7 linked regions of the Homo sapiens genome follow. The protein of the gene in region 3 interacts with the protein of the main gene of each other region in a pairwise test. Each region holds a gene or a part of one and is shown on either strand. Other genes may lie near its edges.

The links.
Region 1: the proteins of DPPA4 (region 3) and SH3GL2 interact in a two-hybrid assay, tested with the Homo sapiens proteins (one large-scale study listed by BioGRID and IntAct).
Region 2: the proteins of DPPA4 (region 3) and PTPRO interact in a two-hybrid assay, tested with the Homo sapiens proteins (one large-scale study listed by BioGRID and IntAct).
Region 4: the proteins of DPPA4 (region 3) and SH3GL3 interact in a two-hybrid assay, tested with the Homo sapiens proteins (one large-scale study listed by BioGRID and IntAct).
Region 5: the proteins of DPPA4 (region 3) and NEDD9 interact in binary tests that used the Homo sapiens proteins (3 or more experiments, as listed by UniProt).
Region 6: the proteins of DPPA4 (region 3) and BTBD2 interact in a two-hybrid assay, tested with the Homo sapiens proteins (one large-scale study listed by BioGRID and IntAct).
Region 7: the proteins of DPPA4 (region 3) and OSTF1 interact in a two-hybrid assay, tested with the Homo sapiens proteins (one large-scale study listed by BioGRID).

What each region holds. Positions count from the first base shown.
Region 1 is NC_000009.12:17,584,895-17,589,325, reverse strand, and holds part of SH3GL2 (endophilin-A1), read right to left. Parts: intron 1-4,431. UniProt on the Homo sapiens protein: Implicated in synaptic vesicle endocytosis. May recruit other proteins to membranes with high curvature. Required for BDNF-dependent dendrite outgrowth.
Region 2 is NC_000012.12:15,499,947-15,504,377, reverse strand, and holds part of PTPRO (receptor-type tyrosine-protein phosphatase O isoform a precursor), read right to left. Parts: intron 2,759-4,431; coding exon 2,315-2,758; intron 471-2,314; coding exon 309-470; intron 1-308.
Region 3 is NC_000003.12:109,330,554-109,334,984, forward strand, and holds part of DPPA4 (developmental pluripotency-associated protein 4), read right to left. Parts: intron 3,441-4,431; coding exon 3,317-3,440; intron 1,479-3,316; coding exon 1,318-1,478; intron 1,232-1,317; coding exon 1,181-1,231; intron 260-1,180; coding exon 1-259. UniProt on the Homo sapiens protein: May be involved in the maintenance of active epigenetic status of target genes. May inhibit differentiation of embryonic cells into a primitive ectoderm lineage.
Region 4 is NC_000015.10:83,610,859-83,615,289, forward strand, and holds part of SH3GL3 (endophilin-A3), read left to right. Parts: intron 1-555; exon of another isoform or gene 556-559; coding exon of another isoform or gene 560-729; intron 730-4,431. UniProt on the Homo sapiens protein: Implicated in endocytosis. May recruit other proteins to membranes with high curvature.
Region 5 is NC_000006.12:11,208,097-11,212,527, reverse strand, and holds part of NEDD9 (enhancer of filamentation 1), read left to right. Parts: intron 1-4,431. UniProt on the Homo sapiens protein: Scaffolding protein which plays a central coordinating role for tyrosine-kinase-based signaling related to cell adhesion. As a focal adhesion protein, plays a role in embryonic fibroblast migration.
Region 6 is NC_000019.10:1,987,827-1,992,140, forward strand, and holds part of BTBD2 (BTB/POZ domain-containing protein 2), read right to left. Parts: intron 4,231-4,314; coding exon of another isoform or gene 4,051-4,230; intron 2,997-4,050; coding exon 2,891-2,996; intron 2,545-2,890; exon of another isoform or gene 2,376-2,544; coding exon 2,178-2,375; exon of another isoform or gene 1,132-2,177; intron 669-1,131; exon of another isoform or gene 1-668.
Region 7 is NC_000009.12:75,129,470-75,133,900, reverse strand, and holds part of OSTF1 (osteoclast-stimulating factor 1), read right to left. Parts: intron 3,324-4,431; coding exon 3,260-3,323; intron 2,132-3,259; coding exon 2,078-2,131; intron 608-2,077; coding exon 500-607; intron 1-499.

The sequences.
Region 1 (4,431 bases), on a different chromosome or scaffold from region 3:
AGGCATAGCGGCACACGCCTATAGTCCCACTACTCTGGAGGCTGAGGTGGGAGGATTGCTTGGGCTCAGAGGATTGAGGCTGTAGTGAGCTGTGATCGCCCCATTATACCCCAGCCTGGACGACAGTTTCAAAAGGCACATGGAACATACTGAGCCTTATGTATTAAGAAAAGACTTATTCAGCAAACTAGACTTAAAATTCATATGTGCATATGTATGTTGTGTATGTACATATGGACATATGCACATATACATACACTTACAAGCTCACAAATAGATTAATATACAGACACACAATTAATTAATTATAGGCACCAGTAATAGCAAAACTGCTAGCTTTTTAACCAAAAACCCACTTTTACATCCTGGGCACATAGCTAGGCTACACTTGCCTTCTTCCATTTCTCTTAGGTGTACCACAGAGGGGCCATGTTACAAGTTCCAGCCAACCAAACATAAACAGAAGGAACTATTCCTTCTCTTCATTTTCAGCTGTTGTATAACAAATTACCACAAATTTAGCAGCTTAAAACAATACCCATTTATTATCTTACAATTCTATAAATTAGAAGTCTGGGCCTGCTTAAGTGAGCTCCCTGTTGAGGGCCTCACAAGGCCAAAATGAAGGCGTTGGCTAGACTGGGCTCTTATCTGGAAGCTTGGGGGAAGAATTCCCTTCCTCTCAGATTCTTCAAGGCTGTGGGTCTAAGATCCCTATTTTCCCTGCTGATGGTCACCAAAGAGCTGATTTCTGCTCCTAGAGGCTGCCTGCATTACTACTCACATGGCCCCTCCCTCTTTAAACCAACAACAGCATGTCCAGTCCTGCTCATACTTCCAATCTCTCTGATTTTTCCTTCCACTACCAGCCAGAGAAAATATCCTGCTTTTAAAGGGCTCATGAGATTAGATTAAGTCCAATCATATAATCTCCCTTTTGTCTTACAAAGTTAAAAGTCTCAGGAATAACATCTTTTCAAATTGAACATTGCACCCACACTCAAAGGGGAGGAGAGTACACAAGAGCAAGAGTCACCAACAATCGTAGCATTCTGTCTACCATATTCCTCTTCCAGGCCTGGCTTATGAACATCTCCCATGCTTGTTCAAACATATTCTTTCCCTTTGGCAACCTTGAAAACCATATGTTACAGATGGCAGAACCGATCCAGGGTCATCCTGAGTCCCTGAAGCAAATAACGGGAAATATAAATGAAAAAGACTTTGAGCAACAAAGTACCATTAAGACTTCTTGGTTAAGCCAAAGTATCAGGCCCTCTTGTTAAGTTCAGAGTAACACAACCAAGTCTACTGGATGAAAATTAGGTCTAAAAAAGAATTTCCATCATAGAAATTGGCAAATGAAACTCACAAGAAAACACATCAGAAGCCTATTAAGTTGAAGTTTTTCTGGTTTTTTTTTTTTGGTTTTTGTTTTTTTGAGACAGTGACTTGCTCTACTGCTCAGGCTGGAGTGCAGTGGTGCAATCTGGCTCACTGCAACCTCTGCCTCCCAGGTTCAAGCAACTCTCCCAGGTTCAAGCTTCAGCCTCCCGAGTAGCTGGGACTACAGGCGTAGGCCACCATGCCTGGCTAATTTTTGTAGTTTTAGTAGAGAAGCGGCTTCACCATGTTGTCCAGGCTGGTCTTGAACCCCTGGCCTCAGGTGACCCGCCCACCTCGGCCTCCCAAAGTGCGGGGATTACAGGCATGAGCTACCGCACTTGGCCAGAAGCCTACTAAGTTTATGAAGAAATTTCATTACTCAAATCTACCATGGATAGTGAAAACCCTATGACTGTAAAACAATCCCCAAATTTAAATAAACAGGAAGTTGACTGAAAAGTTATGCCGTTCCCAAAGAGGGCAGATTTCCTCTAACCCTCCTTAGACCTGGCCAAATATATATAAGAAAGAACAAGAGTTCTTCCCAGATTGCAGAGCCAGATTGTAAAACCAAGGAACTTCCTCTACTGGCAGGCAGGGGATTTCACAATGCCCCCTGCAGGATGCCATCACTGTTATGGACAATAACTGTCCTGACTCCCCTTCTCTCCTTTCCTCACTGGAGTCATTCACTGTGGACATTATTTCCTGTACTTTTTGTTTTGTTTTGTTTTGTTTTTGAGACAGTCTCGCTCTGTCGCCCAGGCTGGAGTGCAACGGTGTGATCTTGGCTCACTGTAGCCTCCGCCTCCCAGGTGCAAGCAATTCTCCTGCCTCAGCCTCCTGAGTAGCCAGAAATACAGCTGTGCATCACCAAGCCTGGCTAATTTTCCCATTTTTAGTAGAGACGAGGTTTTGCCATGTTGGCCAAGCTGGTCTCAAACTCCTCAAGTGATCTGCCTGCCTCGACCTCCCAAAGTGCTGGGATTGCAGGCATGAGCCACCGCACCCAGCCGATTTCCTGTACGTTTAAAAGCATAGGCTATCTGCTTTATGTTTCTTTCAAGCATTATTCTGTGATACGGTTTGGCTGTGTCCCCACCCAAATCTCATCTTAAACTGTAGTTCCCACAATCCCCATGTGTCATGGGAGGGACCTGGTGGGAGGTAATTGAATCATAGGGGTGGTTACCGCCACACTGTTCTCGTGATAGTGAGTGAATTCTCACGAGAGCTGACGGTTTTATAAGGGGCTTTTACCCCACTTTGCTCTGTACTTCTCCTTGCTGCCGTCATGTGAAGGACATTTTTGATCCCCCTTCTGCCATGACTGTAAGTTTCCTGAGCCCTCCCTAGCCATGCAGAACTGTGAGTCAATTACACCTCTTTCCTTTATAAATTACCCAGTCTCGGGTATGCCTTTATTAGCAACATGAGAACAGACTAATACATAGCTTGATATTGAGATGTTTCTCAGCATTATAAAACTGCTTCCATTAGTATCTATGGGGAAAGGTTAGTTTGAATTATAAAAAAGATATTTCTATTTTTTATATATATCATAATTCAAAAAAAGGCAGAAAACACTGCCTAGAGGTCCTTCAGTGTCCTAAGTATCCAAGTAAACCTCCATGGAGCTGTGGGTTCTTCACGAGTATTACAGACAGCTTCTCCATATTCATTACTACTATATACAATTTGACCCAGGGGATGGCGGAGGGAGATTAGGGTAGAGCAACTACAACATCATATTTGGCATTTAGAAGTTGTACTAAATGTAAAACCTTTATAAATAGTGAAATTATTTCCTGAAGCATTTGTCATCAGCTAATGATTTAGTATAGCATGAAAATATTTTGTTGGTAGAATGCAAAAGACTTGGCAGGGTCTCACAATCATGGCATTTTAATAAGTATAGTTATAGCTCTCTTTAGTCTTTATTATCCATCGGATACCATGTACATCATTCTTAAGCTTTTAGGCTCCTTAAGTGATTATGGAAACAATAAATTCTAAACCAAAAACACTGAGAAGGGTTGTACTACAAAGTTTCAAAACTTCACATGTTGTCTCCTGCTGCCTCTTGCTGCCTCAACATTCATTCCCACATACGCTAACTGTGAACACCCCACCCAGGTAACCAGGTGCACAAGTTTGATAAGGTTGGCCCCTACCACAAGTTCACCTCTCTGTCTTCTTCTGACCACGACCTACCAATGCACCAATGCAACGCACTGTGAACTGCACTGAGCTGTGAACTGCACTGAGATCACTAGTAAAGGCACTTGCCCACAGTCCTTGCTCTCTCTGCTCCCACCTGTTTCCCACCTGCTTAGCTGATCCTGCTCTCAGAGCTGTCACCTCCACCCCACGTGTCCCCCCTCCTATCCTCCTGTACAGTGATTGTCATTCTAAGACATGTGAGTATAATAAACTCTGTTTTCTTGAGCCTCTCCTATGTCCCCTCTTGTGGCTACACCTCACTGAACATTACCTAAAAGAACACAGGACAAGGGTACGAAGGATTAAAAGAACAAAAAGAGAAAAAAGGAGGCCAAAAAATCCACTGACTTCTTACCTACTTAGCATCTCCCCTATCTGGCCTTAAATTGAGAAGAATTGCTCATCTCTAGAAAGCCCCATCAGGTATCCACCTTAAAGTTTGAAGCAGTTCTTAAACTCCATCTCCTCACCTAATTCTCATTATTCATTTGTCAGTGTGTCCTGCCCTTCTCTCGCCGCTGCCTCAAGCTACTCCTCTGAAGAAAGCCCTCGGGTTGCTTGATGCCCTGAGACTCTGTATGCAGCACAAGAGGCTTGGCAGAATGGAATCTGCTCTGCAAGCTTCAGCTCCCTTCCCCTGAATATTAAACCTCTCCCTTCCACAATGACATCTGTCTCAAAACAGTCACCATTTGCCCCAACCAAGTCTTGCCATTTTCTAGGGTACTTCTAATTAATTTGCAGGTTACTTTAAAATTTTCTAAGTAGACTGAAACCAAAATTCATATAAACTCAATTTAAAATATTAAAGAATCACTATGG
Region 2 (4,431 bases), on a different chromosome or scaffold from region 3:
CAAACTGTATGTCCACATCCTTGGAGGCTTTGTTATGGCTAATGTGAAAGGTCAGTTTAATAAATGTTCAATTATCACAATAGTAAAAAAAAAATCCTCAAGTTAAACCCCTGGATAGGATTGCTACTATTAAACAAGCATTCATTTCCTCTGCTATCCAAAGCTTGTGGATCTCAGCCTCTCCTGATCTTGAAGACTTCTCATCATCCCTAAGGTTTGTGAATAATTGACATCTGAGCATCATTAATCCCACCAGTTCCATTGTTCTAGCTCCCCAGTAAGTGTAAAATGATCTCTTTGTTACTTACTGATATAAAAGCTGAGTGATTTTGCTGACTGACTTTTTCGAGTTTCACAAGATCCTGAGGAACTAAAGGTTGTCACAGATAACTTATATTTCCCAGGTTCCTTCAGTTCTGCAACAAATTCATGTGCTTCTTCATCCACCATCAAATATTCAGTAAAGTTCTCTAAATCATATATAAAAAAGAGAAGATACATGAATAGACACCTGGAAAGGCCCTGGGTATAGACAAGTCGATTAATGAAAAAAAATTAGGTGTTTTAAATGTTCCCTCCTTTTGTCAAGTTCAATTACACCTCTAAACTAAAGGTACCATTAAAGAATAATAAATAAGAGTTCAGTATTTTTACAGTCTTCCAAATAACAAAACTCAAATACGGCATTCAAATCAATAAAACTAGGGATGGGTCTACACTGTGTATCTTTATGTACTCCTACCCAACAAAATTATGTGTACAAAATAGAAGTAGATAATCAGGAAAAGTTAACAATTGTTGGCTTTCTCATCACGAGGTAAGGGCTAAAAAATAACCAGGATCAAATATCTTGTAAGTTCTTTGTGGTAGTATTAACCATCCAGAAGTGCTTTAACATTTATTTAAAATACATCTAATTTTTAAGGTATATTTTCTGATGTACCCCTGAACTTAAAGTAAAATTAAAAAAATAATAATCATGGTAATATTTTTCCTTTATCCATTTGCTTTCAGATCTTCTTAAAGAAAGAATTATTTCACATTGCTTCACAGTCCATCCATCCTCTGCTGCTTATTACTTCATTTGAAGTCATTATCATCAGTTGGTGACTACAACAGCCTTCAAAAGAAGACACTGAGTCAGATAAATGCATAATAGAACCTTCATGAGAAGAGGCAGTAAAAAATTTTTGTAATGACAAGATCCTATTTGCCGTAGGAACATATTTAGGAACAGAAAAATAAATGATAGATTAAGGAAACTTTAAAAAAAATAGGAAATTCCAGGAAAATGACTTTTGACTCAAATAATTAAGAATTTTCATTTTATGTAATATTTGGGTATGGTTGAATGCTGTATCATCTTGTATAGAAGAATCCACAGATTTTGTATCTCATGCTATTAAGTAAAATAGGAGTAAACAATATGTCAGTATATGAGACTACATGGGCCTTAAACTCTCACCCTAAAAATAAGGCTATCACTGTAACTTCAAATTTTTACAAATTATAACCTCTGCCACTCAAACTACTAGATCAGAAAATGGAAAATGAAGTATATTACTGTAAAAACTAAACAAACAACAAATAACCATAAAAATCTACCAAACAACAATTGAGATAGGTATCATGACCCAAACTTGTTGAAAGTCATGGCTCTACTTTCCTAAGTTAGTGGCTAAAATATAAAGAATGAACCTCAGATGCTGAGTTAGTCAATGCAAAATATAATATAGTAGCTATATGGAAATGTCAGCAGCTGTGTATTTTCCATTTTACTATCAGCTTCTCTTTGGAAAACTGTGGTGCTTTTTCTAGAGGGGCGCACCCTAAAGGGAACAAGAGCGGCTGGTTAGCAGGACACATGCCTCATATTCTTGAGGAAGTAGTAATGTTTTCATAAGTATTACTTTGCTGCCATGTTTAAAAATTTGCATATGAGAAAACAGAAAATTTCTCTAGGTTATGTTGTAACATTCTGGGATAGTTAGATCTTTAATTCAAAATATTTCCAAATATGATGTTTTCCTCATTGTTCTGAGACATGAGAAATAGTGGGCAGTCAAATGTATACAGTTGGCAGTACTTACAACTTGTGAATCACCCAAACCTTCTGATTCTTATCCAGTCTATTCATTTGGGTTTTCTGCTCTCAGTCTGCATTGGATACTCAATTAAATTCTCCCCTTTCATTACCATTATTCTTTGACTAATAACTGTCTATGATCAGTCTTTCTAAACTCAAATTTAAAAACATTTCAATTCCCCTTCCTTTGTATCAGTTCTTATTTCCTCTGATTTCCTACTGCTTTACCTTCTCGTTCAATATGGATATGGAACCCATCAAAAGCAGTGGGTGGTTTGGGTGGTAACCAGGTCAATATCATTTGCACAGGGAAAAAGGAGAAAGAGCCTGATGTTGACTTCTCTGTCTCACTGAGTGTACTGTTATTTTCGTATTCCATGGGAAGTACGCTGACAAATTCATCTTCACTTTCAGGAGCTGCAGATGCACTGTCCCACCAATATGGCTGAGACGTAGTTTCATAGTCACTGCTATTAAAATCAGGCCAACCGGAAGAAATGTTGCCCGAGGGAATTTCAGGGGTTTCTTCTGTAAAATGGAAGAGTTTTTCTTTTCCTATTGTATCTTGTGATCTCATGAAGGATTCTTCTGGGAAATTGCCACTCTGTTCTTCCCAGTTGTTTTTGTTCAAGTTTACGATACGAACGGAAATATTTTGAGGTGGATAAGGGGCTGTAAGAGAGAGAATTTTCATTTTCAAGTATTTTTTAATTCAATTAGAGTGAATACTTAATCTCTTAATGAGTCAGGTACACAAGCAGATTTTTAAAAGTGGAATTTAATTTTACTTCTGATACACAGACAAATTTACATCAAGATAAGCTGTGTTTTTTTCCATATACATACTTCTAACATTTTGTGGATGATGTATACCTATCAACATACCACTAGTCACACTTCAAATATATTAACTTACAATATTATGCTTGTTGAAGTGGTAATTCAACCACTTCTAAAAGCAGAGTATATAAATATTTTTCAGTTTATCGTAATTCCACTTACAAAAAAATGTATCTCTGTTCCTGGATTTTTATTACAAAAAAACCAAAACAAAACAAGTATAGTGTACTTATAGCTATGAAGATGAAAATACTCCATGTGACATAGTTGCACCTACAAGAGTTGCATACATGTGTTGCCTTTAGAGATGTTAACACACATGTTAGAAATATAGCTTCACTCCTCACCTCCCTAAAATGAAACATATAAACTCAAAATGAGTTTACAAATTATGGAAGCACACTTTACTTACAGGGAGAAAATTATGAAGACGCACTGCGTAGTCTCTGCCTGTAACAGTTTCTACTTGTTCTTCAAATAGCAGTTCCATTATCACCTCTTCCATGAACTTTTTTGTTAATTTTTATTTTGAGACAGTATCTCTCTCTGTTGCCCAGGCTAGAGTGCAATGACGTGGTCTCGGCTCACTGCAACCTCCGCCTCCTGGGTTCAAGCAGTTCTCCTGCCTCAGTCTCCCGAGTAGCTGGGATTACAGGCACCAGCCACCATGCCCAGCTAATATTTGTATTCTTAGTAGAGATGGGGTTTCACCACGTTGGCTAGGCTGGTCTCAAACTCCTGACCTCAGGTGATCCACCTGCCTCGGCCTCCCAAAGTGCTGGGATTACAGGCATGAGCCACCGTGCTAGGCCCCATGAGCTTCTAATAAAAATTTATCTCTCCTTCCTTTGTGTTGTTAAATAACTTTGTACCTCTGTTATAATATTTATCTCATTCTGCCTTGTGTTAGTGCCATTCGTGTATTATGAGTACCAATTTTTGAGCACAAGGATCCTGTCTCATCAGTCTTTGTCTTCATGTCTCAGTACTGAGAACAACTTCCAGGTAGAAGGTGCTCAATTAATGTTTTTCTACTTACATTGAATAATGAAAAACATAAATAGAATCTTAACTGTTGACATTAGGTGAATTAGTGATTTAGCTGAAATAGTTTCCTGGTCTTAGACTAATGAATAAGAATCATGACATCTTAGAATTTCAAATTGTCAAGACCTTAGAAGTAATCTATCATAATCCCTTCCTGATGCTCATCAGAATGGCCTCTCCAGCATTCCTATTGAGTATTCAGGCATACTAGGCACATACGATTTTGCTTATATTGGTGATGGGTACTTAGTAGATATATGCTTATTTTATCCATTCATTATTCCATCCATCCATCCATCCATCCATCCATCCATCCATCCACCCATCCATCTATCCATCCATCCATGCAACTATCCATCCATCCTACAATAGTGCTTCATATTAGTGGTGCTACTAAAATCAAGCACCGCAAGTTTTAGATACATTTGAATTTCAATATTTTCCTTTAATAATCTGAT
Region 3 (4,431 bases):
CTGGTGTCCTCGCCCTGGCTGAAATTCTCGCCCAGGAGGCCAGCAAAGCCTCTGGGGCAGAAGTTGTCACCACAACTGTATTAACTCCCTCAAGGAGAGCAGTGGAATTTTCCAGGGCAGGCGGCTCCCCCACAGGAGGAAGAGCCACTTCAGGAGGATGTGTCTCAGAACTTTGCAGGGACGTTTCCCCCTTTTCCACCTTTAATTTTTTTTGCAATGATTTCCGGATTTTGGCCTCTTTTGCTGTGCTAGGAAAATCCTACAAAAAGGGTTAAATAATAAAGATAAAAATACAGATTAAAATTCTAACAAAAATGGCCTAAGGAGCTCTTGATCAAATACAAAGTTTCACTTAGGAGGACTAGGTTCAAGAGATCTATTGTACAAGTTGGTAACTATACATAGTTAATAACAATGTACTGTCTTCTTGAAAATTGCTCAGTTGGCCACCCAGTGGCTCAGGTCTGTAATCCCAGCACTTTGGGAGGCCAAGGTGGGTGAAACACTTGAGGTCAGGAGTTCGAGACCAGCCTGGCCAACATGGTGAAATCCCGTCTCTACTAAAAATACAAAAATTATCCAGGCATGGTGGCTCATGCTTGTAATCTCAGCTACTCCAGGGGCTGAGACAGGGGCATCACTTGAACCAGGGAGGCAGAGGTTGCAGCCTGAACTGCAGCCTAAGTGACAGAGGGAGACTCTGTCTCAAAAAAAAAAAAAAAAAAAAAAAAGAAAGAAAAGAAAAGAAAAGAAATGAAAAGAAAAAAATAGAAAAAAAGAAAATTGCTGGCCAGGCACAGTGGTTCACGCCTGTAATCCCAGCACTTTGGGAGGCCGAAGTGGGTGGATCACCTGAGGCAGGCGCCTGTAATCCGAGCTACTCTGGAGGCTGAGGCAGGAGAATTGCTTGAACCCGGGAAGTGAAGGTTGCAGTGAGCCGAGATGGTGCCACTGCACTCCAGCCTGGGTGACAGTGCAAGACTCTGTCTCAAAAAAAAAAAAAAAAAAAAAAAAGAAAGAAAGAAAGAAAAAAAAGAGAAGTAGAGATGGGAAATATTGTTCTTTCTTAGAACTAGGGGTGGAGGAACAAGGTGAGGCTAAGACAGTTCCTTTACTCACTTTTGAGGCTACAATAGGTAATTAGGATAAGCATTGAAACGTCCATCCTTTAAAAAGTTACCTTTTGATTTGGGTAGGCAAAGGCACACAGGCGCTTATATGCATCCAATTTCTAAGACAATAGAAAACTGAGTTAGTAAGGCAAATAAGGTTCCTACCCTTCCTCCCAGCAGCACCGTCCCCAGCCTGGGACCTCACCTGGCCTTTGGAGCTCAGCTTCAATTGTTGGCACCAGGCCCGCAGAATGTCCCGGTGAATCAGATTAACAGGTGGCAGTTTAGAAGGTAATGGAGGGATTGGTATCTTCTTCTGAGGTCTGGGGTTGTCAGTGTGCTCTGCCTTTTTCTTAGGGCAGAGCACTGAAGCAGAATGGAATCAAATGAGTAGTAATTATCTTTGTGTAGCTTTTCTGAATTTCAAAAGTAAAATCACTTTTTTTTTCTTTTTTGAGACAGAATCTTGCTCTGTCGCCCGGCTGGAGTGCAGTGGCGCGATCTTGGCTCCCTGCAACCTCCGCCTCGTGGGTTCAAGTGATTCTCCTGCCTCAGCCTCCTGAGTAGCTGGGATTACAGACGCCCACCACCACGCCCGGCTAATTTTTTGTATTTTTAGTGGAGATGGGGTTTCACCATGTTGGCCAAGCTGGTCTCGAACTCCTGACCTTGTGATCTGCCCACCTAGGCCTCCCAAAGTTCTGAGATTACAGGCCTAAGCCACCGCGCCCAGCCTAAAATCACTTTTAGTTAATAGTCCAATCCCTCTCAAACCTAGGATTTACCACTTCTAAAACCCAGTTTTATTCCTAAATTGCCCCACTACTGAGGTACACTTGCTCCTTTGTGAGCTCCTTAATCCACAGAATCCAGGTGGTGGCATCGGAGGTTGCACTTCCATCCCAGGGGAATTACCGCTGTCTTAGACTTGAGATCATACTCAGTGGTGTCCTCTACCCCCAGAGCAAAATCAACACCTGACAATGCTACACAGGCAACCACTAATACCCTTAATTCTGCCAGCCCACCCTAGGTCAGGGAAGCACTCTGGTTTCATAGCAGGTATGTTTCCTTAGCTCTGCTGTGTTTCTGTTCATCCCGCTTCTGCACCTCACATACCTTGTCTTCATTCAGTAAAGATTTCTGGCTGGGCGCAGTGGCTCACACTGTAATCCCAGCACTTTGGGAGGCCGAGGTGGGTGGATAACCTGAGGTCAGGAGTTGGAGATCAGCATGGTCAACATGGTGAAACGCCGTCTCTACTTAAAAAATTAGCTGGGCGTGGTGGCACATGCCTGTAATCCCAGCTACTTGGGAGGCTGAGGCAGGAGAACTGTTTGAACCCGGGAGGCAGAGGTTGTAGTGGGCCGGGATCGTGCCATAAAAATTTCTAAGGCTGGGCATGGTGCCTCACACCTGTAACCCCAGCACTTTAGGAGGCCAAGGCAGACGATCACTTGAGGCCAAGAGTTTGCAATCAGCCTGGCCAATATGGTGAAACCCTGTCTCTACTAAAAATACAAAAATCAGCCAGGCATGGTGGCACACGCCTGCAATCCTAGCTAACTTGGGAGGCTGAGACAGGAGAATTGCTTGAACTCGGGAGGCACAGGTTGCAGGGAGCTGAGATGGTGCCACCACACTCCAGCCTGGATGACAGAGCAACACCCTGTCTTGGTGTCTCAAAAAAAAAAAAAAAAAAAAAAAAAAAAAACCAGCCTGTAATGACACTAATAGTAGGGTTTACTCTGTACATATTACTTCTCAGGCATAGTCTAAGTGCTTCACTTAACTACTCTATGTAAATTTTAACACTCCATTCCCACCGCTTAATAAAGGTAGATATTGTCCTAACTTATTTTTAGAATAGGAAGTCCGGTTTCAAGAATGGATCTTCAAATTTACAGCTGTCTGTTCCCAAATCATTGCACACTGAAATCCTTAACTCCAAGTAGCAAGTGAAGGAAAAAATGATCAGCAGAACCAAATATGCTGTGGAAGTCTGAAGATAGGAAGGGATCAGTTAGAGCAGTGGTGACCAAAAGATGCTTCAGGAAGGTAACAGTTTAAGCTTGGCTTCCATGAAGTGCAGGATTTGCACAATACATGATGGAAATTTCTTCCCTGGTTTTTCTTCTTCAGAAAAATTCCTCTGGCTTCTAAGACCCGAGAAGGTGGGATTTGAGAATTTGAAGACCTCTTACCTTTACTGCCTTTGATAGACATTTTTTCTTTGGTTCTCTTTGCTGATGTTCCTGGCAAAGCAATTGAATTTGGTTGATTAGAAGCCTGCTGATCCTCTTCCCTCGACTTCTCTGTGGAGGTCCACTGGGGAACAGAGGAGCTGGTCAGTCATTCCTCTAGTGTCCAAACCACACATACACTACCTGCCTCAAGATAACTCACTTCTAAGGCACCAACGCAGTTACTGGACTCCACTGGCAGTGTGGATTCTCCTCTGGGTATCATCTTAATACTCAGTTTCATTTACAAGACTGGGAAACAATGATGGAAAAAAAGGGAGGAAGCCAGTTTGAAAGCACATGAAAAGACAGATACAAACAAGAGTAGAAGAAAACAGCTCTGCCTTGAGGGGAAAAAGCGCTTAGGTAGGCTCACGCCTGTAGTCTGAGTGCTATAGGAGGCCTAGGCAAGAGGATTGCTTGAGTCCAGTAACTGGATACCAGCCTGAGCAACAACATAGTGAAACCTTGCCTCTACATAAGGAAACAAAATTAGCTGAGCATGGTGGTGTGTGCGTGTAGTCCAGCTACTCGAGACTGAGATAGGAGGATTGCTTGAGCCAGGGAGGTAGGTAGAGGCTGCACCACTGCACTCCAGCCTGGGTGACAGAATGAGACTGTCTCAAAAAAAAAAAAGAGGCCCTTAACTCACTTACTATATTCCATCATCTCTCACCTGGCAGAATTTTTTCCCCCAGTCCTTCATTCTTGACGCCTTCCAAATAATTTTCTAACACTGTTGGCAGAGTGACACTATGAAAAGTTTCAGTGGTTTATTGCTCTTAACATAAAAGTAATTGTCTTTAACATTACCTACCAGCCTCTTATCTCCTATTTCACACTGCTCTCCCTGACCAAGCTCCAGCCACATAATTCCTTTCCTTTCCAAAGTTGTTACATTCCTCAGCCCCAACCTCCACCCTACTTCTATTTACACTTTAAAATCTTACACCTTAAAAATCTTACTCTTCTTTTAAAAGTCTCACCTCAAGTGCTATTTAACCTGGTCCTTCCAGACCAATCTACTAAATACTACCTCATTTCTACCACTTGTTAATTGCAATTACATTGGTTTG
Region 4 (4,431 bases), on a different chromosome or scaffold from region 3:
TCCCTGTAGCTGAGTAGGGCTGAGGAATTGTAGGATTGGACCGCCTCTACCTTAATAAAATGTGCTCAGCATTTCTGCATATGCAAGTAACCCTTTGCAGCAGCAGGGACTTCAGCCAAAAAATATATATATATATATATAATATGTATGTGTGTGTGTATAAATGTATGTGTGTGTGTCTATATATATATATAGAGACAAAATAAGTGGAGTTGGGGGAGGGGCACCGCAAATAATGTTCCTGCTGTTAAAATAAGAGGGACTGAACCATATTAATGCCAAGGGGGAAGTTCAGTTTATTTCAGGGGGGACGTGGTTTTCCTACCTCCTACTGTGTTACTGATACAGTACTTACTGACCAGCCGTCTTAAACTCTTGTGGTAGGGTCTCTCTCTCTCTCTCTCTCTTTCTCTTTTTCCTAATGGTGTGGAACAGAGCTTGAATAATAAATATTTAACAGGGACACTCCCTTTTCTCTGTTAAAATAATCTTTGTTTCAATACTTTAACAAGGAAGACTGTGTTTTCCCACCTCTGCTCTCACGTTTCGTTGAAGCCAGGTCTCAGGAGTAAGAGAAAATCAACACAAGGCCACTTGGGGAGGGCAGTGCTGGCTGAAGCCGTCTCACTGGACAGCCCAGGGTCAGGGGTTTCAGCCGCCTGTTCAAGGACACCGAGATCCACAGCAGCCACCTGGGAGCTCCTACACAACTATGCCCAGCGATTCCAGGTGCCAGCTACTGAATGTGAGAGAGCAAGGAGGTGGAGGTGGATGAGGAACTGCCAGCTGCAGGACCACAGGGGCAAGGGGAAGGGGTTGTCAACAGGGATGGGACGCTGGGTAGGATCAGTCTTTTCTTACGAGACGTTTTCAGCTGAGGTGCTGGCTTCTGATGGTGGGAAACCAAGCATTCAGGTCCCTTGGAGAGGCTTATATCTAACAGTTGGAAAGCCTCCATTGAGGAAATCCAGCCCATTCTGCCTGGACTTTGGGGCTCCATCCATGGTGACTTTTGTGTCAAGGGAAAATTCACACACTGTCCCTCAGGCGGGCAGCAACTTAATTTCTCTTTAGCTGAACTGAACTTGCTTGCAAGCCTCTATGTAGACCAATGGCGGAAACAACTTAATCTTTTTTCCATTTCTGTTGTTGACCAAAAAAAAAAAAAAGCTTTAAAATCTTTTTTCCATTTCTTCTAATGGTGGAAAAAAGCATAATCTTGCCATTTCAAGGTAGCTCAGTCTCTTCCAATAGAAAGCATAGACTATCCGTTTATGACTTAGGCGATTCCAGATTTAAACACAGTCAATTCAGAGTAGAAATTCCCTATCAGGGCTGTTGGTTTTTCTTGAAGGTTCTCTCCTCCCCCTGGTCCAGTCCTAAGATGTTGCCTAGATGTGAGGGGGGTTTACAGAACATCATGGTGGCAGGTAGGGAGGCTCACTTCCACAGCTGAGGTGACTCGTCACAGGAGGCCTGGGGCCTGGGCCAGGATCTGTGCTGACATCTGTGGCTTAGGCCTCCCTCTCTGGGTTGCTGAATCTCTGTATTTGGAGCCGTGTGTCACTGCCCCCAGGCAGCCTCTGGCCTCAGTGGCCCCTCAGCACTTCCTGCTGGGGACTTGAGGGAATTTGTTCACAGTTCACAGGGAGCGACCAGCCTTCAGGCCCCATCTGTACTTAGTGACACCACATGGTTTCCACTGGGCTCCAGCCCCCGTGTTAGTCCAGAGAACTTTGACAGCTGCCTTCTCCCGGGATTTCTGTGGAAAGTGGAGTCTAAGACCCCCTTCCCCAGGGTGGCATCCAAGGAGCATTTCAATTTTCTTGCTCACCCTCTTCTCACTGCAGGCCCCTTCCCTGCTTCCCTGCCTCCAGAAAGAGCTTGTATCTCTTCTCTGGATGGCAGGAAACAGCTCCTCCCTCTCCATGGCTTGTAATCAAAATGCTAGGCTCTGAGTTCTTCAAGCTCTAGTTCTTGGAACCCAGAAGTTTCTCTCTCTCTCTCGCTCTTAAATCTTATAAAAGCCTACCTGGCTCTAGCATGAAAGCCTAAAAGCCTTGGCTTTCACAATGTTTCACAACTGAAATGGTATTATTTGGGAATTTAAAAGCTAAACATTGACTGCTTTGTTCATGTCTGGGTTCCACCCTCCTCCTCAAGTAAGGGAGGCAAGCCCCAGCTCCTTGGGTTGAGGGCCCCAGGCAACAGAAATGACCCAGAATGAAAAATGCATTGATACTTCAGAATATCGTCCGGCTGCATGTATAATTCAGGGCAGCCAGTCTGAGCTCTGGTTGGGGTGGATTTACCAACTGCCTACTTAGCAAGTGCCAATTGCTCTTAGTGTTGTAGCCAGCCCAGTGGTGGCTGGAGGGCCAGGTGCACTTGTACTGCCTGAGTCAGGGAGTTCTTGAACAGGGTCTTTCTACTCAGTGGTCTCTGGAGAGATGCCCTGCCTTGGGTTTAGGTGCTGATGGAGTGTGATATGAGTGCTGGTCTCTTTCCAGCTCTCAGAATATCAAAGTGGGCAATGTGGCAGTGGTTCCTTGCCAAGAATGAATGACATGAGAAGTGAGTAATGCAGCTTTTCCATGATTTGTTCTGTGTGTGTGTGCAGCAAGAACCCAGGTTTACACATGGAGGTGGTGGCCTGGTTTACACATGGAGGTGGTGCATACACTTGGACAAATGTATGCTTGCCACTAAGCATTTTGGTCATTGCAGGTGGCTTATAGAGTAAATGGGAGGGAAATATATAAATCTATCTATCTATCTATCTATCTATCTATCTATCTATCTATCTATCTATCTATCATTAGCCCTGTAATCAGTGTGTCAGCCTATGAAATGTCTTGGCAACCCTTAGTGGTGTCATAGATCATGTACGAGGTGACATGGAGCAAGGTAGCTGATGGCCTAGGGTCTGGAGCCCTCCTGTTTCTGGCTCAGCCAGTAGCCCTGGGGCCAGGCCATTATGACCTCTCAGAGGCATTGATGGCTTCTCTTGGAAAAGGAGAGGACTCATGGAGGACTGCCAAATTCCATTCTAGCATTAACATTCTGTGTTCAAGGAAATGCTTCCCGAGACTACCATGTGGTTTGGCACCTGACCCCTTCTCTGTTAAAAACTAGTCTAGTAGTGGGAGAAATGCTAAAAGAATAATAATTATTTTTATAATCCACATTAAAACAGTTATACATTAATAAAGTAGACTTTGACTCACAGCTCAGGTTGCCCTTGGTTTTCAGTGCTCAGCCCCCACCTGCCCACCCATATACACACTCCATGACCCAAGGAAAATGAAAAGTTCTGTATTGTAAGCCCTCTATTCCCCATGCTTTGTTTGAAATCATTGAATGTTGTTCTGTTCAAATTCAAAATAGTGAACTAATCCCCAATATTTACAGCCTTCCACCCCCTAGCTTTCATCATTATGACAAGAGGAATACACAGACTTAGGCAGGGGTGGGGTCTGTCACGGAAGGAGCTGTCTAGAGGCTAGAAACATCATGTAGATCATAGAGGTTATATTGCAGGTGGGTTCAGAGTTTCAAAGTCACGACCCAGTACAGGAGCTGCCTCCCTGAAGAGGAAGAAGAGCTCCCCTACCATTACCCCCTTCTCTTTCCTCGCCAGCTGAGTCTCTTTAACCTTTAACGCTTCCTTAGGGGAAGGAGAGGGGAGGATCATTTCACTGGTGGTTGTCAACCTACCCTGGACATAGGAAGGACCTGAGAAACAAAAAATACTGATGCCGGGTTCACCCTGGGCAGTGGGCTGTTTAGTGTGCCACCAAGTTGAGAACCACTGCCATAGGAAGGCAACAGGAAGCCACCTTGGTACAACCTGGGGAGCTCCGCTGATGAAGGCTCCTTAGAGTGCCCTGTTCCTTAGAGATATAGGCGCTACTCCATGAATTTCAAGCTGTCTAAACAACTATAATATAATCCTTCTCACAACAGGAATCTCCATTGCCCCAACTCTTGTCTTCCTCCTCCCATAATGCTGTCACCTCTCTACCCCTCCCCAGGACAAAGGGGCATCTCATTTGGCCAGCCACAGAAATACCCCAACGTACCTATTCTCTTTACTTGGACCTAGAAGACTTAGTGGAGAAAGAACATAATCTCTAGCAGAACTTGTTCAATTCTCACTTGAAGTCTAGAGGGAGGAAAAAGTCTTATAACAGAAAAAGGAAATAAAAATGGAAATCATCAAATAGGATGGCAAAAGTCACTTATTAAGAAAAAAAAAAACTCCTAAGATTAATCTTATTAATACTCAAAGAAAAAAAGTATGAACTAGTCAAAATTGAAGTGAGATTTTTGTGAGAGAAATGTGTCATATTAATACTGAAATATACCTAGTTAAATGAATTCATGAGAATAGCAAGGAAATATTGAAATAGAAGGGTAATGACTATGAAC
Region 5 (4,431 bases), on a different chromosome or scaffold from region 3:
ATTGAACAATGAATGTTGAGCATCTAATATATTTTTGATGCTTGTGATACAGTGATTAATTAAAGATAAACAAAGCCCTGGTGATGCTTACATTGCCGTGGGGGAGACAGAAGCAACCAAGAGAATGCTAGGTAGGGACACGTGTTATCAGGAAAATAATGTCAGTGGACTGATCGGGGGTAACACCCACAACCAAGGTGATGCTTATGTGAGCATCACAAAGGAGGGATTTTCTCTTTCATTTGCTGGCAAATTCCAATGGGTCCTACAAGGTTTGGTATTAGGAATGAACAAATTTAACTGGATAAGAAGATATCCCTGAATTACAAGAGGAAAGATGCAATTACATACCAGAAAGAGCTTGTTGACCCTTAGAACACTAACTATAGATGTGTCCTGCCCCAAGTAAATCTAATATGAAGTCTGATTTTACAAACCTCTGTAAATTAGGGAATATCTATTTGATGTATTAGAATCCTCTGTTGAAAAAACAAAGGATTCCTTTAAACAATGAAAGCACTAATGCATTTTTGGGTACATGGAAAGAGGCAGCCTAGAGACCCTGTGGAGAGCCCTTAGTGTTTGGCTGGGGAGGTGCCAGGGCCACCCTCCTGCCCTCCCCATCCTGGCCATGTCACCACCCCAGACCCTGACCCTGTGTGGGTAGATTCCTTTAAACAACAAAGCACTAATGCATTTTTAAATCACCTTTGATATAAAAAGTATGTTTTACAAAATACTTCTCAAGAGCACGCGTGTGGCATGAACTGAGCGTAGGTTCGTTAAGAGGGATTCCTCAAGGGTGGTGCACAGCTTTTAGACTTGTACTGCCCACGACAACGATGCTGCCTAGAGGTGATAAACTGACTTGTGGCTTTTCAGTCTTCCTTGTCCTAGGAATTGTAGATTCAAAGGGAAAACAAAACCTGGCTTCTATCTCCAGAGGGGAAAAATAACAGTTGAAAGGTGTAACTATAAATAAGTAACTTCACTCATTCTTAGTCCTGGTTGTTTGCACCTTAAAAATAGCTCTCCCACATCTGAGCCAGTGTGAGGCAGAAGGGGAGGCCAGAGCAGGAAATGCTTGGCTGGGAGGTGGTGGGCTCTAAACTTTCATCACAGTTGACTTTGGCAGGAAGGTAGCGTGTTTTCCTTTTTAGACCCAACCTTTTCAGCTCCAAGTCAGAGAAGCCTAAGCCTTCAGACTTCTTCCCCTTGTATCTGCTGGGACTGCCCTGCAGGCTTTCCCCATGGCTCCCCGTCCTTCCAGAGGGCAGAGATACGGACTCATCTTCCCTTGGATTGATGTCAAAGGGCTGGGGTGCTGGGGTGACCCTCGGGCACTCACATTCCATGTTTTGTTTTGCTTTTTTTAAGTCTACACTCAGTAGAACATTTTCTGTTTAGCAAAAGGTAGATGAGTCCTGCAGGAGGAAATCAACTTCTGAAAATGACCTGTGCCAGCCCTTCCAGGAGTTGCAGCCAGGGCTGAAGAGTAGGCCGTGCCTAAAGCATCACACAGTCAGGGTCTGGGGTAGTGACATGGCCAGGATGGGGAGGGCAAGAGGGTGGCCCTGGCACCTTCCCTGCCAAATACCAAGGGCTTCTCCACAGTATCCTGATCCTGGGTCTCTAGGCTGCCTCTCTCCATGTACCCCAGAGCAGTGGTTCACATCCATGGGAGTGTGGTTGCCTCTTCCTTTCTTTTCACTCCCTTCCTCACTTCTCTTTTCTATCTCTCTCTCTCTCTCTCTCTCTCTCCCCCCATCCCTCCCTCCTTCCCTCTCCCTCCCTTCCTCCCTTCCTTCCTTTCTTTCATAGTGGAGATGGCTTAGCTGCTAGGAGGTGATTTTAGCCTTCCAGGCAATTGCAACTGCTTTAAAAAACATCTGTCAACATCTTCCTGGGTATAGGATATTCTCAGTGGGTGGGAATCATTCTAATGACTTAAGCCTAGGCCCTAAGAGATAATCCCAGCACACTGGGGATCAGGCGTGGCTTTTTCATTTTTCTGAGTTTGCATTTTAGTAGTTTTACTGACTGGCTTAATAAAGCAATTTGCTCATTTTCTCTTTAAATTTTTCATCTGTAAGATAATATGAGCCCAGAACTAGATATGCCTGGTAGTTTAAGCTATGGTCTTTAAAAGCTCTTGAATAAGAAAATAAGGAGGCAGTGGAATCTTATTCTGAGCCACCGGGGTGGGGTTTAAAAATGTTAATGGGCATAGAATCACCCAGAGAGGTAGGGCAGTGAGTTTAAATGCAGATTCCCAGGTCTTTCCCTCAGAGAAATTAATCCAGTAGGTCTGGTTGGGGGCCCAGGAATCTGCATCTTATTGAGCTCCTTGCATAGTTTTGTGGGTGGTGGCCTAGGACTAGACTTTGAGAAACACTGTAAAGGGACCATGAAGGGGCTGGGACATGCTCCAATCTGATTATGATTTGGGACTTTCCATAGTTCAAAATTCCCTTGATATTGCTACAGACTGTGGGCTTCCGAAGTTTTACCCAGCACTGCTTTTTTCTACTAATGAATCACTTAAGGAAAAAAAAAAGACAGTGAATTCTGCCTTCTATCACTTCAACTTTGCTCTCTTGGAAACTCCAACCTCTACCCACCCTCTTGCATCCCCTCCACACTAACTGACATTCATCACATATTAAATCAGCATTTAGAGAAAGAAATATAGTCATAAAATCCCCACCCTTTTAGGAAACAAGCAGACAGTGTGAGAATTGTGGAGAGAGTAAGGCCTTCAGGGTTCAGCTGATGCTGGGTTGTTTCTCCATAGCTGTATATCCTTTGGTAAGTTACTGACCATCTCTACGCCTTGGTTTCTTCATCTGTTTAATGGGAATGATACTAACTACTTCATAGGCTGTCGTGAGAATTAAACAGAAGCATACATAGAAAGTCCCTGGCTCAGTGCTTAGCATGGCAGGGGCTTAAAAGAATGCATTCCTCTCACCTTGCGTTTCCTTTCTCAGAGTTTATTTCCTACTACATCAGCCCTGTTGTGTTTCTTACGACACACCGAAGGTACAAGTGCTTTCTTGCTAACACATATGCTGTGTTTTTTGAGTGTGTGGCTTTCTCTTTGGTTCTGCAAGAATTCTGCAAAGGGTGGAAAAAAACTCTCCAAGTTATCTGAAAACCATATACGCTGACACCTTTACTTAATTTCATTGGTCTTTTTCACTCTGTGTTTTGTGCACAGGGCCGTTTTATCCATTAGGCGTTGTAGGCAATATGCCCAGTGCCTATAAGAATGTTTGGGAGCTGAATAAAAGATCTTTTGACTCCAAAATATGAAACACAAAAACTGCAAAATAGAAATTAATAAACATTTAGGTCAATGTCTAGGAAACCATATCATGTCTGCCCCATTAATTGTTTTATTTAGGGCTTATAACTATTTCATCATATTAGAAAACAGTATGTAGGTTATATTTTTCTCACTTTGCAAAGATTTCTAAATATGCATCATGGTTGCCAAGAACCCACAGGCAATCCTAAATTAAATAAGTTACTCATAGTCGAATAATTTGAAAAACTGAATTATAAAGGAAGAAAAAAAGTTTTCAATTTTTAACAGCAAAAATTCTACTTAATATGGGATTATGGTTTGGGGTAAATGAAATCTACAAATGTTCAAAACCAAAAGCCTAAAAAGATCTAAAATAGTCTCATTTCTCTGCTTCAAAGATCAGTGAAATTGCTACCTGAGTTCATCCATTTCACAGTTGATCTGCATGGGAAATTATATGTGCTTCTCTGATTTTTCTTTGGATGTGTCGCTTTTATTCTAACTGCTGGAACTATTTGTTGTACCTCTTTCTGAAGATCAGTTTGGGGCTAAATTACAAGCTCCATCAGCACAGGGGCCATGGCTGCCTCCTGACTGCTGTAGGCTGAGCACTTGGTAGAGCATCAGCCCACAGATAGCAGCCCAGTGAACCAATGAACAGGTGGAAGCAAGAATCAAAGTGTTAAATGAGAGTTAACCTTTAATTAACTGAAAGGTGGTTCTGATCTTATCACACATCCACCCTCACACGCTGCTGCTCGAATCCCATGGTTCAGCTCATTACCATCTGGTATGAGAGGTGTCAGATTATATACAGTCATTTCCCTCGCTGAAGGACCTTCCAGAATGTCACTGCCTGTGTCCTGTAAGGGTAACTATTCATATACAATCAATGAGCACCTTGATGCAAAGCATGAGTGATGTAAAGAAGGGCTTATCTGAGAGTTTAACTTCTGTGCATTTTGCCCAATTTAGACAAGATTAGTTAACTCCTCTGTGGTCACCTAAGGAGGAAAACTAGGCTTTTTTTTTTTTTTTTTGAGTCAGGGTCTCGCTCTGTCACCCATGCTGAAGTGCGGTGGTGCCATCTCGGCTCACTGCAACTTCTGGCTCCTGGGTTC
Region 6 (4,314 bases), on a different chromosome or scaffold from region 3:
GGGGGACTAGCCACCAGCCATGGCCCCTGCTGCCTGGGCTTTTAGGGAGAGGTCCCAGGGCACAGACCAGAGGCCGACAGATACGCTCACTCAGGGGCGATGCCTCAGGGTCTGACAGATGCACTCACTCAGGGGTGATGTCTCAGGGTCTGGCCCCACTGTAGGGACCACCCGTCACTTCACTGTGGGTGGGGGCGGGGGGCTCCACTGCCTGTTCTCTCAGGGCCATTGGCTGGGAGGGGTCACTGTGGCTCCCTGCTAGGCCTGTACCCCCCAGGCTGCAGCCCTGGCTTCTAGAAGCAGTCTGGGGGTTCCTCTCCACGGTGGGCCCTAGGCAGACACCTTCTCAAGCGCTTACACCCCCAGGGGTGATGGCTAGCGGACCCCAGGCAGACTCCAAGAGCCAGGCTCTTAATCCCGGTGCAGAGATGTCACAGGCAGAGGGACTGTGCATGGGATGTGAAGGGGCTCTGGGTAGGGAGGGGAGGCCAGGAGGGGCAGAATTGGGGGTCCACCATCCACCCCCAGGAGTGCCAGGACACAGCACCCTCTGCTCTAATGAGAGCAGCCCTGCCTGCCTGAGACCTAATCACTCATCAACCAAGGTGGGCTCAACTCCGCATCGCTCAGCTGCAAGCCAGCCCAGTGCAGACACAGTTTAATAACTGGTGAGAAACAGACCATTATGGGTTAAGTGAATCAGGAAGACTGAGTATCAAAACTCAATAAACAATGTTAACAATTTTTTTTTTTTTTGAGACGGAGTTTCGCTCTTGTCCCCCAGGCTAGAGTGCAGGACGGAGTTTCGCTCTTGTCCCCCAGGCTAGAGTGCAGTGGCGTAATCTCGGCTCACCGCAACATCCGTCTCCAGGGTTCAAGCAATTCTCCTGCCTCAGCCTCCAGCATAGCTGGGTTTACAGGCATGCGCCACCATGCCCAGCTAATCTTGTATTTTTAGTAGAGACGGGGTTTCACCCTGTTGGTCAGGCTGGTCTCAAACTCCTGACCTCAAGTGATTCCCCCCATCTTGGGCCTCCCAAAGTGCTGGGATTACAGGAGTGAGTGACCCAGCCTGGCCAACAATTGTATATATTTTTTTATTTTAAATGGAGTTTCACTCTTGTTGCCCAGGCTGGAGTGCAGTGGCGCGATCTCGGCTCATCACAACCTCCACCTCCTGGGTTCAAGTGATTCTCCTGCCTCAGCCTCCCGGGTAGCTGGGATTACAGGCATGAGCCACCACACCCAGCTGATCAACAGTTGTATTTTTAAGAAGTATGTATCTAGCCAGGCTCGGTGGCCCATGTCCATAATCCCAGCACTTTGTGAGGCCGAGATGGGAGGATGGCTGGAGCCCAGTTCATGACCAGCCCAGGTGACATAGCAAGACCCTGTCCCCACAAAAAAATACAAATATAAGCCTTGTGTGGTGGTGGCACCTGTGATCCCAGCTACTCCGGAGTCTGAAGCAGGAGGATCACTTGAGCCCAGGAGGTCGAGGCTGCAGTGAGCTGTGATTGTACCACCGCACTCAGCCTGGGCGACAGAGACCCTCTTGCTAAATCTGGCGACCTTCAGCTAAGCAAGAGCGGGGGCCGCGTGGACCTGGGGAAGGCCAGACGGCGAGTGTGCACCAGCCCCAGGGCTCTGTCCCAGCCCCTTCTGGAAAGTTCCAGGCCTGTTTTGCTCCAGAGCTGGATGGCGTCAGGCAGTGAGCAGCCACGAGGGCAGGAGGCATCGTTAGCGCTGCCCCTTCACGTCACCCTGGAACCCAGGCCCTGCAGCAGGGGACCCCAAGGCCCACTCGGGCGCATGACAGCCACCCCGGCCATGTCAGAGCCCTCCTGAGCTCGTCACAGACACTGGTACCTGCACCAGCAGGTAGCACAAGGGCGCGAGACGGGGACTCCCTTCCCTCCTGGGAAGATGCCACCAAAACAGCTGGACAGACACGAGAGGCGGGGTCTGGCAGTGTGCACGGTGGGGACAGAGCCGGGCCGGGGCTAACAGATGGCCCTGTGGACGCGTCCTCACAAGCCAGGTTTCTTCCTATCTGTATATGCCAGGCATCTGCCAGGCTTTCCGCAGTGAACTCGGGGGCACTATCCTCGGTACCCAGATGCCCACCTGTGTGCCACTCCCCTCCCAAACCAGCCCCTGAGCCCGAGCTCTGTTACCTGCAGCGAACTCCTCGATGGTCATGAGCGGGAAGCGAATGAGGCCCAGGGCCTTGCCCAGAACCTTCCGCCTGTTCTCTGGCGTCACCTGCAGCTGCTGCCGCTGACACTCGGCCTCGGACCAGCGGACAACGGCATTGAACAGCCGCACCTCACGGATGCCCAGTGTGTCGCGCTCCAGGACAGCCACCAGCGTGTCTGTGGGGTGGAGGAAGGGGCTGCGTGAACACGACACCCACATGCCCACCCTGCAGGAGGCAGTGAGACTAACGTGAGGACCAGCAGTTAAAGCCGGGCTGGCAACTATGGCCCGTGGCCCAAATCTGGCCCTGTGAGTGTGTTTATAAATAAAGCTTTATCAACACAAGACCACGCCCCTTCATTTTCCTCGGCTGTGGTTGTTTTTAAGCCACAAGGACAGACTTGAGTAGCTTTGACAAAAGCTGTTCAACAGCAAAGTCAAAGCCATGGACCATCGGAGGACGAGATGGTCACCATCAGCTGGGATGGTGGGCTCTGGCCTGTGGCCTCCTGGCCAAGGCCCCGGACTCCCGTGGGGCTGTGCTAGGACCCAAACTCCTGACCTGCTGCAAGTGGTGAGGCCCCAGCTCACCTGTGCAACTCCCCCAGGCCCAAAGCTCCCACTGTCAATCCCCGGACCCTCCCGCCGAGGCCCCGCTGGGATTCCCACACCTGGGCTCCTGGGCCCTTACCCAGGTCAATGTCGGTGAAGCCCTCCGCGGTGATGGCGTCTGCAGTGTTTTTGTCGATGTTCTCCAGGCACAGGCTGGCCAGCTGCGGTTCATCGAAGAGTCGCGCCTGGCAAGAGACATCGACGGGGGGCGCGGTGGGGACATCAGCACCCAGCCCTCGGCAGATCCCCAGTGCGGGGCCGGTTCAAATGCAGCCCTGACCACACGGGCCTTCCTGAGCGTGGCCAGGAGCCACCAGGGTCTCAGCCACCAGGCCGGCCCTGTTGTGGGCCCAGAGACTCCCCTGTGACCGCTGACTGGGGCGGGAGAGTTGGGGAGTTCCCTCTCAGGACCTCAGAGGCCAAGGAAGGAAGAAAAAGATGCTCAGGTCCCTGTCGGCAGGGCCTGCTGCTTTAGGCAAAAGGGGCGTTGCAGCTGCACTCGGGGGGCAGCAGGGCCCAGGACCCCGAGTGGCAGGCAGAGGTGAGGTGGCCGGGGCCGACCGGTGAAGCTTCCCGACCACAACATGCCCTTGGCCACTTGTGGTGGGAGGGGCCGTGTCCCCGGCAGCTCCATCCCAAGACAAACAGCAGACATGACTTCTGACAGTCAGGTGACAGAGCTGGAGGACGCCTGTGCTCTTAGGGAAACAGAGGCTTAGTTAGTGGAAGGTGCTGGAAGGGCCTATGCCAGCAGGGACCCGGGCAGGCCTTTCTGCGGGCATCCTCCCGAGGACACCTCTCAAGTGGGTTCGTAGTGGTTTTAGGGGCAGGGAGGCTGAGGCAGCCACAAGATGAAGCCCGGGGAGTGAGCTCCAGCCTCCTCTCAGCTCAGGCAGAGGCCTCTCCAGCAAGGCGACCAGATGACCCGGACAAGAAACCCCTCCCTGTGGGAGTCCGGGATGCCCTGCATCTGACCTGCCAGGATGGAGGGGGAGAAGGTTCTGGGTCCTTTCCAGGATGCCGGACCCCCAAAGCCCATTGGAGGACCCAGTGCCGCTGTCCCCTCTGGCCACCCTCCACCCCCGACCAGGAGCTCACGGCTCCCAAGCGGCCGTCCACCCGTACTGGCCCCACGTCCTCTCAGCCTCCCTGGCCTGCACGACCTCCCCAGCCCCCGCCCTTTGGGCTGCACAGAGCCCAACTGGGGTCCCCTGAGATCCCTGGCCCTGCTCTGTCTACCTGACATTTCCTTAGAGAGAGAGAGAAAGTTCTCTCTGGTTTTTTTTTTTCTTTTTTTTTAGCCAGGCGCGGTGGTGGGGGCCTGTAATCCCAGCTACTGTGGAGGCTGAGGCAGGAGAATCGCTTGAACGCTGGAGGCGGAGGTTGCAGTGAGCTGAGATCGTGCCATTGCACTCCAGCCTGGGCAACAAGAGAAACCCCGTCTCAAAAAAAAATTATTTTACTTTTTTTTTAGAGACAGGGTCTCACTCTGTCACTCAGGCT
Region 7 (4,431 bases), on a different chromosome or scaffold from region 3:
CAGGAAGAAATACATCTAAAAATTCAATTTGTCATTATTATTGATTACAACAGAAAAAGTATCAATGGAATCACTAACTTTGGCAAATGTTGGCTTTCTCTTGAATCTAATAGTTTGCATTAAACTTAAAATGCAAATCATAAAAGAAGACCTTGTGAAAAGCTAAGCTAGAGGAGCAAATTCTGATCTTTCCTTCTGTAAGATTAGACAGTGGTTTTGTTTTTATATTACTGCTGTTTTCCAGTAACCTTTCTAAGCCTGAGAGAGGAAAGGAAGTGTCCAGTCTTTCAAGCGAGAGGGACCCATGCAGTGAGGCTGACTGACCACATTCTACCCACTGTTCTACAGAGCTTCCAGGAACAAGGGTTTTGGCCGGTATTCTAAAGGATTCAAAAAGAATAGCCAATGCTTTTCCTTTCTCATTTTTTGTAAATCTGGCTCCCGTAGGTGAAACACATTTTCAGCAGCATAGAAACATATAACAAACAAAATGTAATACCTTTGTGGCCCCCGTGGCAAGCCCAGTATAAGGCAGTGCTTCCAGCTTTGTCTAAGCCATTAACACCCACTCTGTTGTCCAAACACTCTCTCAACCAGCTCAAGTTGCCTGAAAGAATTTTACATTTACAAGAACACAAGAAAAAAAGCTTTCACTTTTTATTTTGCTTTTAAATCAATGTCATTCTGCATAAATTTCCATTTGCAATGGATTAATCAGCAAGTATTAAATTAAGACCTCCCCATTAATGCATTTATTATGGTACATTTTGACTTCCAGCTTATTAATGGAAAGTATTAACATCAATGTTTCTAATGATAAGTTAATGGGAATAGTTGCCCAAATGGGTATACTTAAGGTATTTCTATTCTGTTAAAAAATATATAGGGGTGTGTGTGTGTGTGTGTGTGTGTGTGTGTGTGTGTGTGTATGTGTGTGTATGTGTATATATTATTTTTTTCTTTGTGAAATTCTGGAAATTGAGGAAAAAACAATCAAACCTAAGAACAAGCAGATACTATTCATATTCATATTTAAAATGCATCTTCAGTTCCTATAAGAAAGGCTAAATAACCTACTCAAAGCTGCTGCTCTTATATGCTAAACTATAACTATTAATTTAAAATCCTCAGGCTAATGTCCCAAGTATCTAATTCACAAAGAATTTTTTAAATGTCAGTTTAGTCCTTTTACTTTTTCACAATCCTAACCAATAATTTCCTTGTGTACATTCAGATTTCCAAAAAAATCTAAAAATGGAATGAAATGGAGCTCATTGAGGCTTTACAAAAACTCCCCATTATCTACAGCAGGGTTTCTCAGCAGCAGCCCCATTGGCATTTGGGGTTGGATTTATTGTGGGGGTGCTCCTGTGTGCTGTAGGATGTGTGGCAACAACGCCTGCCTCTCCCCAAAAGATGCCAGTAACATCCCTCCAGTCATGACAGTCAACATGTCTCCAGATATTGCCAAATACCCTCGGGGTTTGTGAAAGAGGAATCACCCCTAGCTGAGGACTACTGATCTACAGAATAAAGCCCAAGACAAGGCTGATCGTTGTTTGGTCAAGGATCTTCCCCAGGTTCATCCCTGTTAGTCATGCCCTCCCTGGCCAAATGCTCACCACACCAACGCTCTCCTAAATGCTGTACCCACCAGACCCTTCCATTCTCTTGCCCTCCAGTTACTCACCTGGGCCTCTACGGCCTGTCAAACACATTTCAATTGCTGTACTTATCATACCATATTTTAATGATCTGTTACATCTCTCTCTCCCCTGCCAGATGTTGTGCTTTGGAAGTCACAGACCATGTCTTTCGACTTGCATCTCCCCACAACAGTGTTTCTTGACTGACATTTTAAAACTAAAATCACACTTCTCTAGGGTAGTAGATGTTGGGACAGACTGTAAGGCAGGGATTTAACTGAGAAGGTGCAAAGGGAACTTTCTAGGATGGCAGAAATGTTCTAGATCTTGATCTGGGTGTTGGTTACGTGGGTGTATGCACTTGTCAAAGCTAATTGAAATCCGTGCCTTTTACTGTACTGCATACCTCAGTCAAAAAGAATCACACCTACCTCTTTTTGCTGCTTCATGCAATGGATTGTCAATGGATTCTGCCTGCTCAGCCACTAGATTGAAAATAAAAAGTGTTAACCCAATGTGGAATTGCCACACAAATGATTTACTGAAGCCACTCATTCACCACAGTCCCCCAGCTTCAGGAGTACCAGGGCATTCAACACAGTTTCCTTTACTTAATGTGGATAAAAAGTAACAGAAAATCAAATGGATAGTTCTTGCATTAAATGAAGCTGAATTATGTGTTTAGGGAAACCAAGCCAAGCAATAAGGCAATAACATAGTAATTAACTGGAAGTATAAACAAAAACAAACAAACCCGCATACCTGAGTTAAATGCACACTTGATATTACTCAAGTATTTAATAAACAAAGTCACAAAAATGCAAAAGGAAGCATTTGATGTTCATTTTTACATTTTGTAGATCACTCTGCTTTAAAGATACCTGAAAATAATTTTGGTTCTCTTGTGTGTATTTATGTAGGATCGGATGAGGGGAGTATTTTGCTTCCTGTATTCAGAAAGAACAATCAGCATAGCTACCTGCCTCTTAAAGAAGGCATGTTCGCTGCTGTCCTAGAATCAGTAGGAAGTGTTATTAGGAAATGGAAGAAAGAGGATTAAAACTCAGGAGCCTTGTTTATCAATTCTGTGCTCTTTTGACTTGATTCTGCTGACAACTAAACAAGTGTTTTATCTGTTTGTCCCACTTCCAGCTTGAAGCAGCTTCATGGCGGGAGCCGTGTCTCTCATCTCTCAAAGTCTCCAAACTGCCATGATAAGCATTTAATGAACATCACTGCCCCAAACATGAATGAACAAGGCCGGGTTACTCCATCACAAAAGAAACGGCTAGTCTAAGAAACTATCTGCAAGATTGAGTTTATCAGCATTAAAAAAAATTGTTTTAAGGGTTGAAGAAAGTAAAACCATAAGTGTTTCCTTGGAAACCTTGGGTTAAGAATGCTAAAATGCATTCTCTTAGGCCACAGAGTCAGGCTCAAGCACATCTGGTGTTCATGGCCAGTTTATTAACAGAAGGCTCATGGAATAGAAAATGTCCTAGACTGACAATGACTCCATTGCTTTCTCAGCCACAGTAGCAAGCAGAAAAGCATCAAGAACCAAAAAATTCCAAGTGAACGAAGCTAAAGTAAAACCACTCAGCAACACTTACCATAGTTGCTTGGAATTAGTCCAGTCCTGCCTTTGGAGGTGCCTTTCCACCAATTGGTATCGCTCTGGTAAAAGAAGAGTTAAATTAAGTGGTATGAAATCCAGACTGCATTCATTCACTTTTCAAATTATCTAGCTCCTAGGGAGTACCTGTTCTACAAAATGTCCATCAACCCTACCCACACTATCAAGCTTCCTCACGCCCTAGCTGTGGGTGTCCGTCTCCCTTACCACTCAGTTACAAATAAACACGCATCTGCCTGCAACAAATGGAATACGTTTCATGACAGAGTCTCAACAACCAAACAAATAAGAGATGACATGAAACAGAAGAAAACAAATTACGCTAGTTTAGACTAGCTATATGATTTTTTGTCCACAGTTTCATTTCTCTTAGCTTTGAGATAATTTTTTTTATGGGGGAGGAAGTTCTAAAGATCTCTTTATATTATCTTCATTTTGGGGGTAACTTGTTATTATAGAAAAATTTAAACTTACAAAAAAGTAGAAAGAACAATGTAATGACCATATATATACCCATTTCCCAACTGCACAAATCATTTATTAATGACCAATATTGTTTCATATATGCCCCCATGACGTCCCTCCCCTCCTGGATTATTTTAAAATAAATTCTAGACATCATATTATTTCATTTGTAAATATTTCAGTACGTATCTCTGAAAGACACATACTTTTTGAAAGGCAATTATAATGCCATTATCACAGCTTAAAAGTTTTTTCCAACAATAATTCCTTAATATCATCAAATATCTAGGTCGATACTCAAATTTCCCAACTGCCCCATAATTTGGGACTCAAATAAGGGCTATACAATATGATTGATTTGTCTTTAAGTATCTTTTAATCTATAGGTTGTCTCTCCATTCTTTTTTATCTCTTACAATGTATTTGTTGAAGAATCCAGTTGGTTTGTTCTGTAGTGTCAACCTCTATGGATTTTGCCTGTTGTATCCCTGTGTTATCATTAAGCATGTTCCTCTGTTCCCTGTATTGCCTATAAATTGGTCATCAGTTCTAGAGGTTTAATTAGATTCAGCTCCAATTTTTTTTGGCAAGGCTATTTCCTAGGCAGTATTGATTTCTTCCATTAGGAAATGCAAACTATCTAGTCGGCTTCTTTTTGTAATGTTAGTAGCCCTTGATGATCAT